Regions from separate parts of the Homo sapiens genome. Here all the other regions are linked to region 1. Evidence: fine-mapped expression QTL. A gene starts in region 1. Each other region holds a variant in brackets. All regions are shown on one strand. Distances are from middle to middle. Region 1 holds the start of PLXDC2 (plexin domain containing 2). Region 2 has its middle 25 kb from the start of PLXDC2. Region 3 overlaps PLXDC2 (plexin domain containing 2).

Region 1 (5,228 bases):
AATTAAGAGTAGGTGAAAGAACCACCAATTCCTTTCCTATGTCTATAGTGAATACAAACAGCCGTTACTACGTCTCTCCCTCATGTCAGATGGAAGATGTAACATCTTCCACAAATACTTACTTTGTTACTACAAAATGGAAAGAGACACTTCTACTGTGGTGAAATGTGTATGGCAAACCCAAATAATTTAGGCCACAAAATACCCTAGTTTAGCCAGAATTATGAGTAATCTACTTTTTCCATTTCACTCTGAACATACTGTCCTACATACATTTTATTTATTCGTTCCTTGCTACAGTGTAAAGGCAGAATATACTTTAAAAAAATAATCATTCATCAACATTTAAGGCAAATGATCAGAGCTTGAGTTTATTGTTATACAATGTTGCTCTTTCTTCTTTATTTCTGAACAGCAAATCTCATCAAGCATGATTGAGTTTTGCTTACTTGTATCTTCTCCCTTACTTCCGCATTTACTATGTGTATAGCTCTTCAGAATAAAATTAAGATAGGAGTAAACCAATACAATTCAGCAGCATCAGTGACATAACCAAACATATAAAAGTCCTTCCTGACTGACCCTGAATGACCATTTACCCCCTTTCAAATTTTGACATCAAATTTCTACTTACAAAAAGTATATAGTTTCAATCAGGTGGTCAAAGCATTGATGACCGCAAGTAACAAGAAAAATGAACCCTGCGAATACGCACATAAAATAATAAAGGAAAAAAGAAAGAAAATGATAGCAAGGAGAGGTGGAGATTTGCTTGTTCTCAGAGGAGGAAACACCTATTTTTCTACTGTGAAAGAAGGAGAAATAACTCGGTCTGAAAAAAGAGGTGCTTTCTTGAAATGGTTTCCGCTGGATTCCCCATTATTTTAGATATGATGGGAGCTGGAGTTGTGCAGAATATTTTGGGACGCTTTCCGCATGGATTTATGATCCTCAAAAAGAATCGGCATCAATTAAACTATAGTTGACCCTTGAACAGTATGGGGGTCAGGGGGACGGACCCCCACACAGTAGAAAATTAATGTATAATTTCGACTCCTCATAAACTTAACTGCTAATACCCTACTGTTGATTAGAAGCATTACTGATAATATAAAAACAGTTGATTAACACATATTTGGTATGTTCTACATATTACATACTGTATTCTTAAAATAAAGTAAGCTAGAGAAAAGAAAATGTTAAGAAAATCATAAGGAAGATAAATATACTTACTGTTTATTAAGTGGAAGTGGATCATCAGAAAGGCTTTCATCCTCATCGTCTTCACATTGAGTGGGCTGAAGCGGAGGAAGAGGAGGGGTTAGTCTTGCTCTGTTAGGGGTGGCAGAGGAGGAAGAAAATCCATGCAAAAGCGGATCCTCGCAGTTCAAACCCCTGTTGTTCAAGGGTCAACCGCACAATCAGGTTTTGATGAGAAGACTCAGTTTTCAAACTTGATTTTAAGCAGGTATATATCCGGGTACTCAAATTCGGATGTAATATTACATAGAACTTAAACACTCCTAGTTAAGCAGAAATAGAAAAACCCAGTTACCTAAGTAGAAATCAACCTATGGGAGGAAAGCTCAGGAAAGAGCCAGGGTCCTGGCATAATAAAGAGTATAGGCATGATATATGTTTGTGTTTATACGTGTATATCTGTTGTTTGGAAATAAAGAGCAAATTGAGTATTGGATTAAGGGAAACCTTTCTTGTTTCCCATGAGAGAGCCGTCCTTTGAGCATCACATTTGCAAAGGTAGATTGATTATCCGGATCCACTTCCAGTGGGTTTTGTGGCAAGCCGAGACATCTATTGACAGCATCCATAGACTCTTCAGAGCTTGGAGTGGAAAGGACCTTGAACTTAGAACACATGCACATTTATTATGTGATTGAAGTCGTCTTCTCTCACTTTTGCTTCAGTAAACACTTAAACAAAGCCATGTACTTTGCGGTAGGCAATGTTCTATATTTATTAAATATACAGTTAACTCATCCAATCCATTGCAACCACCTTATAAGGGCGTTACTCTAATTCTCTCCATTTGATGGATGGATAACTGAGGCTAGGAGATAAACTGCTCATTGCGGGGGAGGTGAAATTCCAGCCCAGGCTGTCCGGGCTCTAGATCCTGTACTTTTAACCAATAGCGCTTTGCTTCTTTTCCTTGTATTTATCCCTTTCAAAAATGATTAACTGTATGCAAAATAAGATATCAACTAACGAGAGGGCCGGCAAGGGTTAACGCGGAAACAGATCCCCGAGCTGAAAAAACAAAAACAAACTGGGGAGCCAGAGCCCCTGAAAGCTCCGGTAGGAAATTCAATGGGCCTCCTGTTCCTTTAAACTCTCGCTTTCGCCCCCGCTGACACTTTGCAAAGCCGCGGCGGCAGCGGCGGGGACCACGCTGCGGTGCACCACCTTCCGCCACCCTCCCGCGCTGGGCTGGGGTCGAGGGGGCTTCGCAGAGTCGGTAACCGAACCGGCTCTGGTTTGCTTTCTCCACTCCCTAGCCACTACCAGAACCAGCCTCCGCGAAGGGGCGAGCTGTGGTTAACCCTTTCGTGCCCAGGGAGACCCCGCCAGGGTCGGGGCGGGGCGCGATCGCCCCCCGCAGTCGGGCGCGAAGGCGGCCCGGGAGCCAGGTGGGTGTGGGGCGCAGTTGGCGGAGCTGCCCAGGGCGTGCGAGCAGGCTGCGAGGATGGCGCCCCGGCGGCGCGGAGGTACCGCCCCGCGCTCCCCCGATAGCTCCCCGGCCTGTCCCCTCTCCCCGCGCTCTGGGGCAGCCGGCTGCCTGGGGCGCACGGGGCTGGAGTGGCCCTCTCCCTCCCCTTCGCTAGGCTCCCCCGGCTTAATCTGTTGGCCGCGACTCCTCAGCCAGCCCCGAGGAAAGTGCAGCCATTGGACAGGTCTGTGCGGGCTGCCGGTTTCAGGGAGGAAGGTGGGAGAAGCCTGGAGGAGCGAAGGGGAGGGCGGAGGGAGGAGGGAGGAGGGTGCGGCGGCAGATCTGGCAAATTGCGAGCTGCCTTCCCTCCTCAAAGTGTGGAGAAGGAGCGCGGGGGAGCGTGGCGACGGCAGCGCCTCCTCCGCCACCAAACTCCTGGGGCTCCGCGGGGGCTTGGGGCCACCTCCTCCTGAGCCCGGAGGAACCCTCTCCCGATAGGTTCCAGCGTGACTCCCTCCCACTCCACCCTTTTCCTTTCTTCTTCCTCTTTTTTTTTTTTTTTTTTAAACACATTTTTTTCCTGGCTTCGGACCTCAGACTGCTGCAGCCCTAACCTTCCCAGGGCTCAGCTCTTTGGAGCTGCCCATTCCTCCGGCTGCGAGAAAGGACGCGCGCCCTGCGTCGGGCGAAGAAAAGAAGCAAAACTTGTCGGGAGGGTTTCGTCATCAACCTCCTTCCCGCAAACCTAAACCTCCTGCCGGGGCCATCCCTAGACAGAGGAAAGTTCCTGCAGAGCCGACCAGCCCTAGTGGATCTGGGGCAGGCAGCGGCGCTGGCTGTGGAATTAGATCTGTTTTGAACCCAGTGGAGCGCATCGCTGGGGCTCGGAAGTCACCGTCCGCGGGCACCGGGTTGGCGCTGCCCGAGTGGAACCGACAGTTTGCGAGCCTCGGCTGCAAGTGGCCTCTCCTCCCCGCGGTTGTTGTTCAGTGTCGGGTGAGGGCTGCGAGTGTGGCAAGTTGCAAAGAGAGCCTCAGAGGTCCGAAGAGCGCTGCGCTCCTACTCGCGTTCGCTTCTTCCTCTTCTCGGTTCCCTACTGTGAAATCGCAGCGACATTTACAAAGGCCTCCGGGTCCTACCGAGACCGATCCGCAGCGTTTGGCCCGGTCGTGCCTATTGCATCGGGAGCCCCCGAGCACCGGCGAAGGACTGGCGGGTGGGGTAGGGAGGTGGCGGCGGCGGCATGGCGAGGTTCCCGAAGGCCGACCTGGCCGCTGCAGGAGTTATGTTACTTTGCCACTTCTTCACGGACCAGTTTCAGTTCGCCGATGGGAAACCCGGAGACCAAATCCTTGGTAAGTAAGATGCACTTTAGCTTGCTGATTTTGTGCGCAGCTGAAGACCTCTCTGGCACTCTCGTGCTCCCTACCCTCTCCCCCCAACATCACCTATCTGCCCTTGGGAAACTTATTGCAGTTGCTTTTCGGCTAAACTTAGGCTTCCCAAATGGGGAAAGAGGGTTATCAAGAGAAGGACGCCGGGGACTAGGGGTTTTCTTGAGGCTTTCGGGCTTACTTCACCTGGGCGGCAGGGGGTGGTACTGTCTCCCCAAAGTAGCCCAGGGAGGGCTTCAGTGTGAGAGCAAAGCTTCTTCCGTGGATACATCTCCTAGGACCTGGCATCTCCAGGCTGTGTGCTCTCCGGCTCCTCCTCCTTCCTCGCTGCTGGTTAAACTAAGCGTGTGTGGTATGGGGTGGGTGGGGGACGTTGTGAAAGCCAGGGATTGCAGGTCTCCCCTCTGCACGAGAAAATTCCCTGTGGCAGCACCTTCCTTCCCCTGGCGATCCCCACTAGCTCCGTCTAGTGACCTGGGCCAAGCGGGCGCTGGAAGGGGGGCGGGGTAAATGCGGCCGGCGCAGAGGTGGGGAGCAGGTGGGAAAGGTGGAGGCGGGCTCGCCTCTGGAGACCTACCCCTGCTCCCATTGTCCTCCGCCTGCCAGCTTCACAGACAGGCCTGAACGCGCAGAGAGTTCCTTGGAGTGCCCTGATTTTGTCCCCGAGAGGGCCCCCAACCTCCGCATCCTCTTAGTGGCTGTCCTGGCAGGTGCGCGTCCTGCGGGGAGTTGCGCCCCGGGGGCTATCGCCGAGCGGGAGCTGCCTCCTGGAACCCTGCCCACCGCGAACTGGGTGCCTACTCCCCATTTCTGCCTTTCAGTGAAGAAAGTGAAGACACAGGCAGAAAGAGATCTTGGCAGAAATTGGTGAACTAGGGTGGACTTCGAGAGGAGGTGAAACGAGAGAAAAAGAAAAAAGAAAAAACTTGGAGGGAAAAGAAAAGAAAACGAAAACTTTCTCCCTAGGATAATCAATTTGTCAATTTGTTCTTTTCTGGTGTGTGTGTGTGTGTGTGTGTGTGTGTGTGTGTGTGTGTGTGTGTAATTTAAATGATTGCCCGGAAAGTATGCATGCGTCCTCAACAGTCAACTAGAGAGTCACAGATGGAAGGTTGGGGGACACCTGGGGATTCCAGGCAAGGTGAATCTTGAAGATCTTGAAGGAA
Region 2 (5,228 bases), 24 kb before region 1:
TCAAAGAATTTACATCTCAAAATTAAGCAGCAAGAACTGCTGAATGTCTGCTTCTTCCCACTGATCCAGCTTTAAAAAGGCCTTATTTAAATCCTCGGGAGAAAACACAGGGGAACCATTAAAACAAACAAAAATCAACAGCCGAGGGAATAATTGAATTGTTTCATTTCTTTGTTTATTGTTTATATATGTATATATATTTTTTCTCCCCCCCCAGTTTTTTTTCTTCTCTATCCTGGATAGCGATTTCTTTTCCCAACATCTCAAAACTTTGCCTCCCCTCTTTTTTTTTTCATCCTCTTTCATGATAGTTTTCATTTATGATTCATCTTTTGATTCCACACTCTAAGATATAAGGGCAATTTGAGAACATCTTGAGCTGAGTACCAACTTTATTAAATAGATAAAAATATGAGCTCTGGAAAACAAATTATGGACCTGAAAACTGTTGGTATTTTAAAAAGCAGTGGGCATATATAGAGGAAAGAGCACATTCTGTACTAGGGTTTCTCTCAAAGGCGATAGGGTTACATATTCAGTAATGGATAGAGCAAGAAGTGAAGACACCAGAAGGGGTTGACTGTATATTTCCATTAAAGTGAATTACATGAGCAAGTTAACAGAGACAGAAAGAATACAGGTTTAAACTTGATGACTTGGGTTAAAGGCAGGTCATCAAGTTTCAGGGCTACTGGAGAAGATCCACGAAATGTGGGCAGTACCGAAACCTGCTTTGAAAGACAGTCTAAGGAGGCTGAACTCTAGTGAAGAGCATAACATCTCGGAGAAAATAATTTTGGCGACAAAATGGAGAAAGGATGGTAGGAAGAGGTATAACTTACTCATTGTAACATTCCAAGCCTGAGATTTCAAGTGCCTGAAATAATAAATTTGGGATGCTTATCTAAGCACTTAGTATTTCTGATATAAAATAATACTGCATTTCTAGTTGCAGTAGAGTTTACCATGTGGTTCTATATTATTTCATTTTTACAACCACCTTCTGAACTAAGGAAGGAATTGTTATTTTTGCTTTACAGAGGAGAAATGTGATGCTCAGAGGGTGTGGCTGACAAGCTCCAGGACACAGGTAATAAGTAAAATCTAGATCTCGGGTCTTTCAATTGAAACTAGAAACATAGGAAACAACAACAGAAGTCACAACAATTTAACAGTTATTTAGAGGTGTCAGTGATTTGGGATTTAAAAATATGGAATTTAACATTTCTGGTTTCAAAGTCAATACACAGCTTCCATATGACACTATAGAGTAAGTAAAAAATAAAAGATAATTTATCTGATGTATCGTTAATTGTGCTTTAATAATTCTCATGTTATTGGCTTGGGATTATAATTGGAAATTATATCTGAAAGTAATAAAATTATAGTTGATGATAGAATGAGACAGTCTTTACCCACCTTTCCAAAATTCAGATGGCTTTCCAAATTTTATTTTTAAAATGTCCACCAAATAATTTTTTAAAAGATTAATAGGTTCTCACAGAGCACAAATACATAAAATAATGGCTGCCTTTTGAAAGATTACATTGTTTTCATATATCTCATTAGTATTTGAGGAGAAATTAGGACTTGTATTTTCTCACAAAATGTGAAGGGAAAGACTCTAATAGCATTTTAAACCACCAAAAGGGCATGATTGATTATTATACTCATGTGGTTGAATTTCTCTAAATTTTGCTTTTTAATGAATCTTTAAATTATAGTGTTAATAGTTACACTTGTTAATTTCAATAGACTATTTTCTGTAATAGAAGAAGAATAAACATGTAGCATAACTAAAGAAAAAAAAAGAAAATCAAGTGAAATGGAAGAGTAAATGATAAATTCTCCAGTCTCTGTTCATCTCATCCAGTCTTTGTTAATCTCATGGTTGAGACCAGAAAGTTGCATGTCAGTCATTTGGTGTGTACTACATATACTCTGACTTAAAAGATATCTGGAATGATACAGCATCGGATTGTTCCTTCTAACACTTAAGTGTCCTTGATACATAGAAAAGAGAAGAAAGTGCCAATCAGGCAGATTAAGACCTTTACTTACAAATGATTCATTTCCGTGCTTGCTTAATTTCTAAAAGTAGGTATCTGGGTGTTGTCCAACAAAATGAATGGAAAAATCCCAGCCTGCATGATATGTACATGTGAGACTGAAGTCACCTGATAACTGGGTCAAGAATTCATGTTACACACTGAAGGATGCACTTCAAACACAGGCTTATACTTTACACA[G/T]CTTAAAAATAATAGTTAATAAGAAAACAACTTTTGAGAAGGGCTAATTTGCTTTGTAGTCAATTCCATCCAAATATGTACATAATAGTTTATATATGTGTTTATAAATGTTATAAAAGTTGAAGAGATATCCTAATTTCCCACTGGTTTGTTGACCACATCTTTATTCCCAGAACCTATGAATATCTTACTTTACATGGTAGAAGGGACTTTGTAGACATTAATTTAAGCACCTTGAGATGGATGATTCTGGATTATTTGGATAGGCATGATATAATCACAAGAGAGAGGGAGGAGAATCAGAGTCAGTAGAAGAAAGTGTAACAATGAGAGCAAAAGCCTGGAGCTATGCAAGGTTCAGGCCACGAGCCAATGGATGCAGGAAGCCTCCAGAAGCTGAGAAAAGTAAGGAAAATGTATTCCCCCAGAGAAGAAATGCAGCCCTGCCAATATCTTGCTTTTTCCCTGGAGACCCATTTTGGACTTCTGACCTCCCACCAGACTAGTAAGGTAATAAATTCATGTTGTTTTAAGACACAAAGTTTGTGTTTATTTATTTATTTTAGAGACAGGCTCTCGCTCTGTCCTGCACGTTGGAGTGCGGTAGCACACTCATAGCTCATTGCAATCTCGAACTCCTGGGCTCAAGCCATCTTCCTACGTTAGGCTTTCTAGTAGCTAGGACTACAGGCTCATGCCACCATGCCCAGCTAGCTTTTTATTTGTGTTATTATTATTATTACTATTATTATTATTATTATTATTATTATTATCGTAGAGATAGGCTTTTGCTATGTTACTCAGGCCGGACTCCAGTTCCCCAGCTTCAAGCAATCCTTCTGCCTCGGCCTCCCAAAGAACTGGGAATACAGGTGTGAGCCACCCTGCCAGACCTGTGGTAATATATTACAGCAGCAATAGGAAACATACTGAAAGTAAGATTTCCAAATAAATGTATAATAATCACATAACTTTGCTATAATTATCTTAACCATTTCTGTATTGTTCAACTTTTAGCTTGTTTCCATTTTTTTCTATTATAAATAGTGCTGAAGTGAATATCCTTATGTATAAATCTTGGCATACACTTCTGATTTATTTTCTTTAGATTAAAAAACTGGAAATGGCTTGGAGCAGTGGCTCACACCTGTAATCCCAGGACTTTGGGAGGATGAGGCAGGCAGACTTGCTTGAGCCCAGGAGTTTGAGACCAGCCTAGGCAACACGGTGAAACCCCGTCTCTACCAAAATTACAAAAATTAGCTGTGTGTGGTGGCACACATCTGTGGTCCAGCTTCTCAGGAGGCTGAGGTGGGATGATCACTTGAGCCTGGGAAGCTAAGGCTGTGGTGAGTTGTAATCGGGCCACTGCACTCCAGCCTGGGCAACAGACTGAGACCCTGTCTCTAAATAGATAAAAAAATAAATAAAATTGGAAGAAATAAGAACTTGGAAATGAAATGACTGCTGTAATATTTTAAAAAATATTTAAACACAAAAATCAGTAAAGATACAACTAACACTTAGATTCATACGTGAAGATGAACTTTTATTAATATAAGAAGTAAAATATTAGTGATAGAGATGAAGTACCCTTTAATCCCCTTTTCCATCCTCCCTCCATACTCTCGTCTCTTCCAACACAAAGATTGAAAAATGTGGAATGATTCACAAATGTGTGAACCACCCTTGCACATGGACGATATTGATCTCTGTGCTGTTCCAGTTTTAGTATATATATTAATGAAGCAAGCACCAAGGTTTCATTTTATTCTTAAAAACACCCTTGAAGAAACTAGCCAAGGTTATACATTATAGCTTCTTTATGACAATAATCTTTTAGACTCCAAAATATCTTCATAGACAAGAAAAGGCAAATGCAGGCATTAAAAGAAGGAAGAATGAGAAAGAGAAGGGCAGAATTGAATAATGAGCTAATTGGAGCTATTTTTTCTAGATAGGCATTTCATTTTCACTGTTGATTTTACCTTACATTTAAAGTATGAAAAGTTAAAATTTTAAAAATCATCTAATTATGCATTTACAAACCGTTACTAATTTTGTCACCGTTCCCAAATTAGCCAGACTGGTCTCTGTTCTGAGCTGTGAAGAAAAGGCAATAAAAAGGATATTGTTCCCTTTACTGTAACTCCACTGTTTTATTCAAGTGTCATTGTGGCCACTTCACAATCTGATTTGAGAAGAGGTTCTGTCAAGCTTGATCATAATTTGGATGAACTCTCTACTTATGCAGAACCCAGCTCTGTTATGAGGATCAGGATTCATTCCAGCTGTAGAATATCACAAAACTAGAGGGTGACCTATCGGAATCCCCAAATTAAAGAACATCTAAAATATAAGATATTCTCAAGGTCTGTAACTTTTTAATAAGTTTTACATTCCAAACTGTGTATATGACAGTATCAGTTTCTATTGAACAACTACTTTGATTCATTTGGAAGAACAAGTATCAGACCCTCGTCGATCTAAATATTCTCCAGCCTTGGCAACATGGTGAAACCCTGTCTCTACTAAAACAACAACGACAACAACAAAAAAAATACAAAAATTAGCCAGGTGTGTGGTGTGCACCTGTAGTCGAAGCTACTAGGGAGGCTGAGGTTGGGGGATCACTGGAGCCCAAGGGGTGGAAGTTGCAGTGAGCCAAGATCATGGCACTGCACTCCTGCCTGGGTGACAGAATGAGACCCTGCCTCAAAAAATAAATAAATAGGCTGGGCGTGGTGGCTCACTCCTGTAATCCCAGCACTTTGGGAGGCCGAGGCACGTGGATCCTGAGTTCAGGAGTTCGAGACCAGCCTAGCCAGCATGGTGAAACCCCGCCTCTACTAAAAAAAAAAAAAAATTTTTTTGCCAGACATGGTGGCACGCAGCTGTAATCCCAGCTACTTAGGAGGCTGAGGCAGAATTGCTTGAACCCGGGAGGTAGAGATTGCAGTGAGCTGAGATTGTACCACT
Region 3 (5,228 bases), 290 kb after region 1:
TGCAAAACTAATATCTGCCTGATGGCCCATCATTTTGATAAATCATAGTTTTAAAAATCTTCCACCTACCATTTATTTAGAAATGAAAATTTGAATATTTCACGTACTTTCATTTCCCATCCACTTCTCACAGATCCTCAAAAGAATGTTGTTTCAAAGTTAGTTTTTCTTTATATTGATTGTGTGGGGTTTCTTTGCTCAGCAAGAAAATAGAAAATAATAGTCCATGAAGAGCAAAATAAGAAAAACAAGTGCTAAATTGTGTGAGTGAGGGCTTCTGAGTCATCAGAAAATGTTTTCACAGAACTTTTCTCACTTGAAAAGATCTGCTAGAAAGGTTCTGGGAGGATAATGCCTAGTTAGAGTTGGCTGAGGGAGTGATTATGTTGCTAGGGAGATTCTTTTAATTATGTTTAATTGGTATCATATCATCTGTTTTACTGTATTTTTGTTTTTAGTAATTCATTTTAAAGTAGACATTTAAAAAAATCAAAATACCTTTTGTGCAAAAGTAATACTGCACGGTTACGATTTATGGGGCCTAAAAACACAAACCAGTATGTATTAGTGACACAAAAGAAAAATAAAATATTATTTCATATGTTACCTATTCAAAAATTGAATTAATTGAAAGCATGAGTCTAACAACTTATTCCCTGTCGCAAAATTTATAGGAGGAATTTAGACCAGTACCTTAAAGAAAGCAAAATATGCCCTTCTTGTCACTACACAATAAGAGCACAAACTTTAAAAGAATCTTAGTCTAGCAAATGCTGATTATATCCACGGAAATAATCCTGATCATGGAAAACAGTATGTTGCACTGGGGAAAAGTGAGGAATGATTTCTGGTTAAACCAGTGACTGACATAGCAAGAATTGAGTCCTGTTCTTTCTCACTGGACCTAGTTACCAGAGGAGTTTGTAGTGAAGTGTTTATAAATGTGTAATTCCATTTTCGTTTTGTGTGTTTGTGTGGGAAAGAGAGATAATGAAAGGAAATGGTGTTTCCATGGTAACATAACAGAAAATCCATAACATGGAAGTGATGTGATGTCAGTGATTTTTTTTTCCTCCAAGGGAAAGGGTGGAAGTACAATGAACATTGTGTTGTCATCAGCCAAGTGCAAGCATTTTGTGTAATTCAGAAGACACTGAATTTAATTGATAGTTGACTATAATACGGTTGCTCTGGACATGTCATTCCTGTTGCCCTTCTCCTCTCTCCCTGATATGTAATGTCAGGTGAAATTGCCTTGGCCTGCAGAGTAATTGATAACAGCTTAGCAACACAGGTGACAGAAAGGAAGGGGAAGAGAGTCTTTTGGTTACTTCAATATTTTTTGCCAAAAATTTGGTGCACTGTACCTTTTGATTCTCTGTTCAATCAGGTGATCTTGAAAATGTCCATTACCAGAACACAGTGTTTGCTGAGTACTCATCTCAATTGAGATGAAAATTGCATACTATGTATTAGCAGCCCTAATCATATCTACCCATGCTAAAATTAAAAAAAAAAATTAACAGCACGTTGTGAATTGTGTTGGCAATTAAATGACAATCACCATATTATATTGTATGTTGTTCTCACTTACTAGTTTGGTAATTTAATTTGAACTTGTTACTAAGATTTCAAGCCATTTATTGGCCGACAGTTATGATTCTTCTTTTCTTTTTAAAATTTTTTCTGCCAAATGATGAAAATATGTCAAAAGGAAAAATTGTGACAGAGATAAGTATTGATGGCATCTGGTTTAGGGGTACAGTGGCTTCTAAAAATGATGTGTGAGTATAAAGATTTGAGAGGATGGGGGTAGTGTTGATCTATTTATCCACATTCTTCCAAAGTAGGCGGATGGCTCTCATTTCAGTTCAGCTCAGCCATTATCAGAAAGTTTGTGTTGATTCTGAGTGAAGAAAGGAGAAATTGAATTATGCACCCAAATAAAGCAAACTCCTGTCAACTGTAGTCAATCGTTTTATTCTTTAGACTGAGACTCCTAAGGAATCTACTGTCTAGATCAATCCTTTCTGCTTCTTGAAGTTTCCTGTTTTCTCTCTTCAGCTATTGTGCACTTCATATCTCAAATCTTTGTATTTCAAATCTTGAAAGCTGATTTCACCTAATTTCTGTCTGCAGTCATTGTGCTACTTCTTCTACTAAAAAATGTCTTTGATTAATACTTATCATTGAAAAATCCTTAATGTTCTTACTTTGCTTCCTGGGTTCATCATCAAAAAACTTCAGCTGCTCAAGTCAGTAGTGCGCCCACACCTTAACAAATCTTAAGGCCATTGACTGACCTGCATTCTTGACCTCTTTGTGGGATTAGGTTCTCCTGATCATCTCCTCCTCAGGAAACATTCTCTTCTTCTAGAGTCTATTAAGTGACAATATCTTGTTTTTTTACCAAACTTTTTTTTTTAATTGTTTTTGAGATAGAATCTCACTCTGTTGCCCAGGCTGGAGTGCAGTGGCATAATCTCGGCTCACTGCAACCTCCACCTCCCAGGTTCGAGCAATTCTCCCGCCTCAGCTTCCCGAGTAGCTGGGATTACAGCCCCCCGACCCCCACCATGCCCGGCTAATTTTTG[C/T]ATTTCTAGTAGAGATGGGGTTTCACCATGTTGGCCAAGCTGGTCACAAACTCCTGACCTCATTTGATCCTCCCGCCTCGCCTATCAAAGTGCTTAGATTACAGGCATGAGCCACTGTGCCCAGTCAGTTTTTTACCAGCCTTTCTAAGAGATCCTTGTCTATTTCAGCTCAGTGACTGCTACCATTGTGGTCTAACCTTGTCATTGTTTATTTCTATAGTTCAGAAGTTTTCTGTCTGCTGTAATACCAAATCCACAATCTACATTCCATGTTATTATTCCGCCTAGACAACATCTTACATATATTGATTAAATTATTTTGATTTAGATAACTCGGTGTTTCCTAAATTGCAGTACATTTGCATAATTATCGTTATCTGTCTGAGGGTAAAAAGAACACTCTTTCATGTTTCTCTTTGCACCACAGCCTTTATCCCAAGATATAGTCATTGTTTTTATTCCTACTATCCCTTAGTCCATAAATCTAATCACTCCTTTATTTCTATTAAATGGACTATATGTCTGTCCTATTCCATCACCAGCAGCAGAAGGATTCTGGATATGTTTTGAAGGGATTGGTAATAATATTTGCTATAAATTATGTAAGGGGTACGAGAAAAATAGAAAAGTCCAGGGTGGTTTTAAGGATTTTGGCTTGAGCAACTGAGCAAATGGCAGGGCCTATTATTGTGGTACAGAACACTGCAGAAGGACAAGATGGGGGAATCCTGTTTCAGGCATGGTAAATTTAAGATTCCCATAAAATATTCCAATGAACATGTCAGATAAGCAGTTAAGATCTTTGAGTATAATGTCTAGAGGAAAAATGGCGGCTGGAGGTATAATTTTAGGAGTTTATCAGTTTTTAAAGCCACGGGATAGGACAAGAACACCAAATTATTGAGTATAGGCAGCTAGAGAAGGTATCCTAGGCCCAGCCCTGGAGTACATCCATGTTTACAAAGCAGGAAGAGGTAGAACATGCTTCCAAAAGAGACTGAGAAACAGCAGCCAATGAGGTGGGAAGAAAACCAAGAGTGCAGTGTCTTTGAAGACATTTGCTAACAGGTGTCAAGAAGGCGATAACTATGTGGAGTACCTCTGAGAGTCTAAGAAGGTGCGGACAGAAATCTCGCCATCAGGGTTAATGCAGCCATCAGGGACCACAGTGCTAAGGACCCACAATACTTTTAGGGGCCCCCAAAATATTTTAATTTTTATTTATTTTCAAATCAATAGAAAAATATAAATATAATGACAGTGCATATATAAAAATGAAACCTGCCTGGGTTGTATTTGTGTTGATAACAATGCAGTCATATAATTTTTAATACTGTTTTATGGAAGATCAGGCCCACAAAGGACTTCAAGTGCTCTGATGAGCATTAGATAGGCCATGTAGATGTCACTGCTCATATTGATAAGAACAGCTTTGAAAAAGCCCTGGGCACAGACACCCGAGACTTGTGGGTTCAAGGAAGAGGTGGAGAGGAAATTGAATGTGGATCCAGAGATAGCAGTTTTAACAAACCATTAAAAGAATGTTGTAAAGGGGTGCAGAGGAAAGGAATAGCATCATAGCTGGAAGAGATGTGGGGTTAAAGGCGGTTTGTGTGTGAGAGAGAGAGAGAGAGAGAGAAAACTGGGAAGACACATCTTTTCTTTTTTTTTTTCTTTTTTTTTTTTTGAGACGGAGTATCGTTGTCTCCCATGCTGGAGTGCGGTGGCACGATCTCGGCTCACTGTAACCTCCACCTCCTGGGTTCAAGCAATTCTCCTGCCTCAGCTTCCTGAGTAGCTTGGGTTTACAGGCATGCGCCACCACGCCCAGCTAATTTTTGTATTTTTAGTAGAGACAGGGTTTTGCCATGTTGGCCAGGCTGGTCTCGAACTCCTGACCTCAGGTGATCCGCCTGCCTTGGCCGCCCAAAGTGCTAGGATTGCAAGCGTGAGCCACCGTGCCCGGCTGACACATCTTTTATAAGATATAATTGAAGGAGCAGAGACTTTCAGAGCAGAAGGACATGGGGTCCAGTACCTGAAGAAAGGAGTTGGCCTAAGATTGGAGCAGGTTTTTCCTGATTATTTCTGCTTTCACAGTGAGATAAGAAGTAAAGTCATTAGCTGAGAGTTAGGAAGTCTGAACATAGGTGGTAGATTTGAGGAGAGATGACACAATATGAATTAGTCACATTTATCTTGAAAGAATGGATTGTCTAGGGAAACGCAATGAGATTACTGACAGAGAATGTAAGAAAATTGAAAATATTAGCAGCAGTAGTTACTTCTGGGCAATAGGATCAAATATTATTTTTATTTTTATGGTTTTTGTTGTCAAATGTTTTACACTGAAGTTTTCTCACTTCAAAAGCTATTGAAAATTTTAAGCCTCCTATCTTTAATATCTTGCAGTGGTTTCTACGTTCTTTAGGAATTTTCTGTAGACCAACTCCAGCCCCTTGTAAGAATTCCCTGAAGACTTAGTCTTCAGTGTATGACAGCATTCTGTAATACATATTTTTATAGGTTATTTCAACTGCTCACTGTTTGAATATGTTGTTTTTCTAATGAAAGTAGCAACTCTTTACTGCAGCAGCTAGGTTCCATGTAGGTATCCATTGCTGTTAATGTATT

What was found. PIP is the estimated chance that this variant, and not a neighbour inherited with it, causes the effect. A credible set is the group of variants that fine-mapping cannot tell apart.
Region 2: its variant is the best candidate, but not a certain one, in a credible set for the expression of PLXDC2 in whole blood (INTERVAL, PIP 0.73).
Region 3: its variant is the best candidate, but not a certain one, in a credible set for the expression of PLXDC2 in blood mononuclear cells (TOPMed, PIP 0.82).

What each region holds. Positions count from the first base shown.
Region 1 is chr10:19,813,169-19,818,396 of GRCh38, forward strand. PLXDC2 (plexin domain containing 2) reads left to right here and starts at 3,264. Exons shown (of 14, transcript NM_032812.9): 1 at 3,264-4,023. The coding sequence starts at 3,912. It overlaps LOC124902388 (a long non-coding RNA gene), which reads right to left and starts at 3,060. Exons shown (of 2, transcript XR_007062078.1): 1 at 1,234-3,060. RefSeq lists an enhancer at 2,188-2,953.
Region 2 is chr10:19,789,097-19,794,324 of GRCh38, forward strand. It overlaps the pseudogene RNU6-1212P. Among named protein-coding and RNA genes, the nearest start is that of PLXDC2, 25 kb to the right of the region's middle. The variant G/T (reference allele first, on the strand shown) is at 2,250.
Region 3 is chr10:20,099,381-20,104,608 of GRCh38, forward strand. The region is part of intron 4 of PLXDC2 (plexin domain containing 2); the gene reads left to right. Among named protein-coding and RNA genes, the nearest start is that of PLXDC2, 290 kb to the left of the region's middle. The variant C/T (reference allele first, on the strand shown) is at 2,595.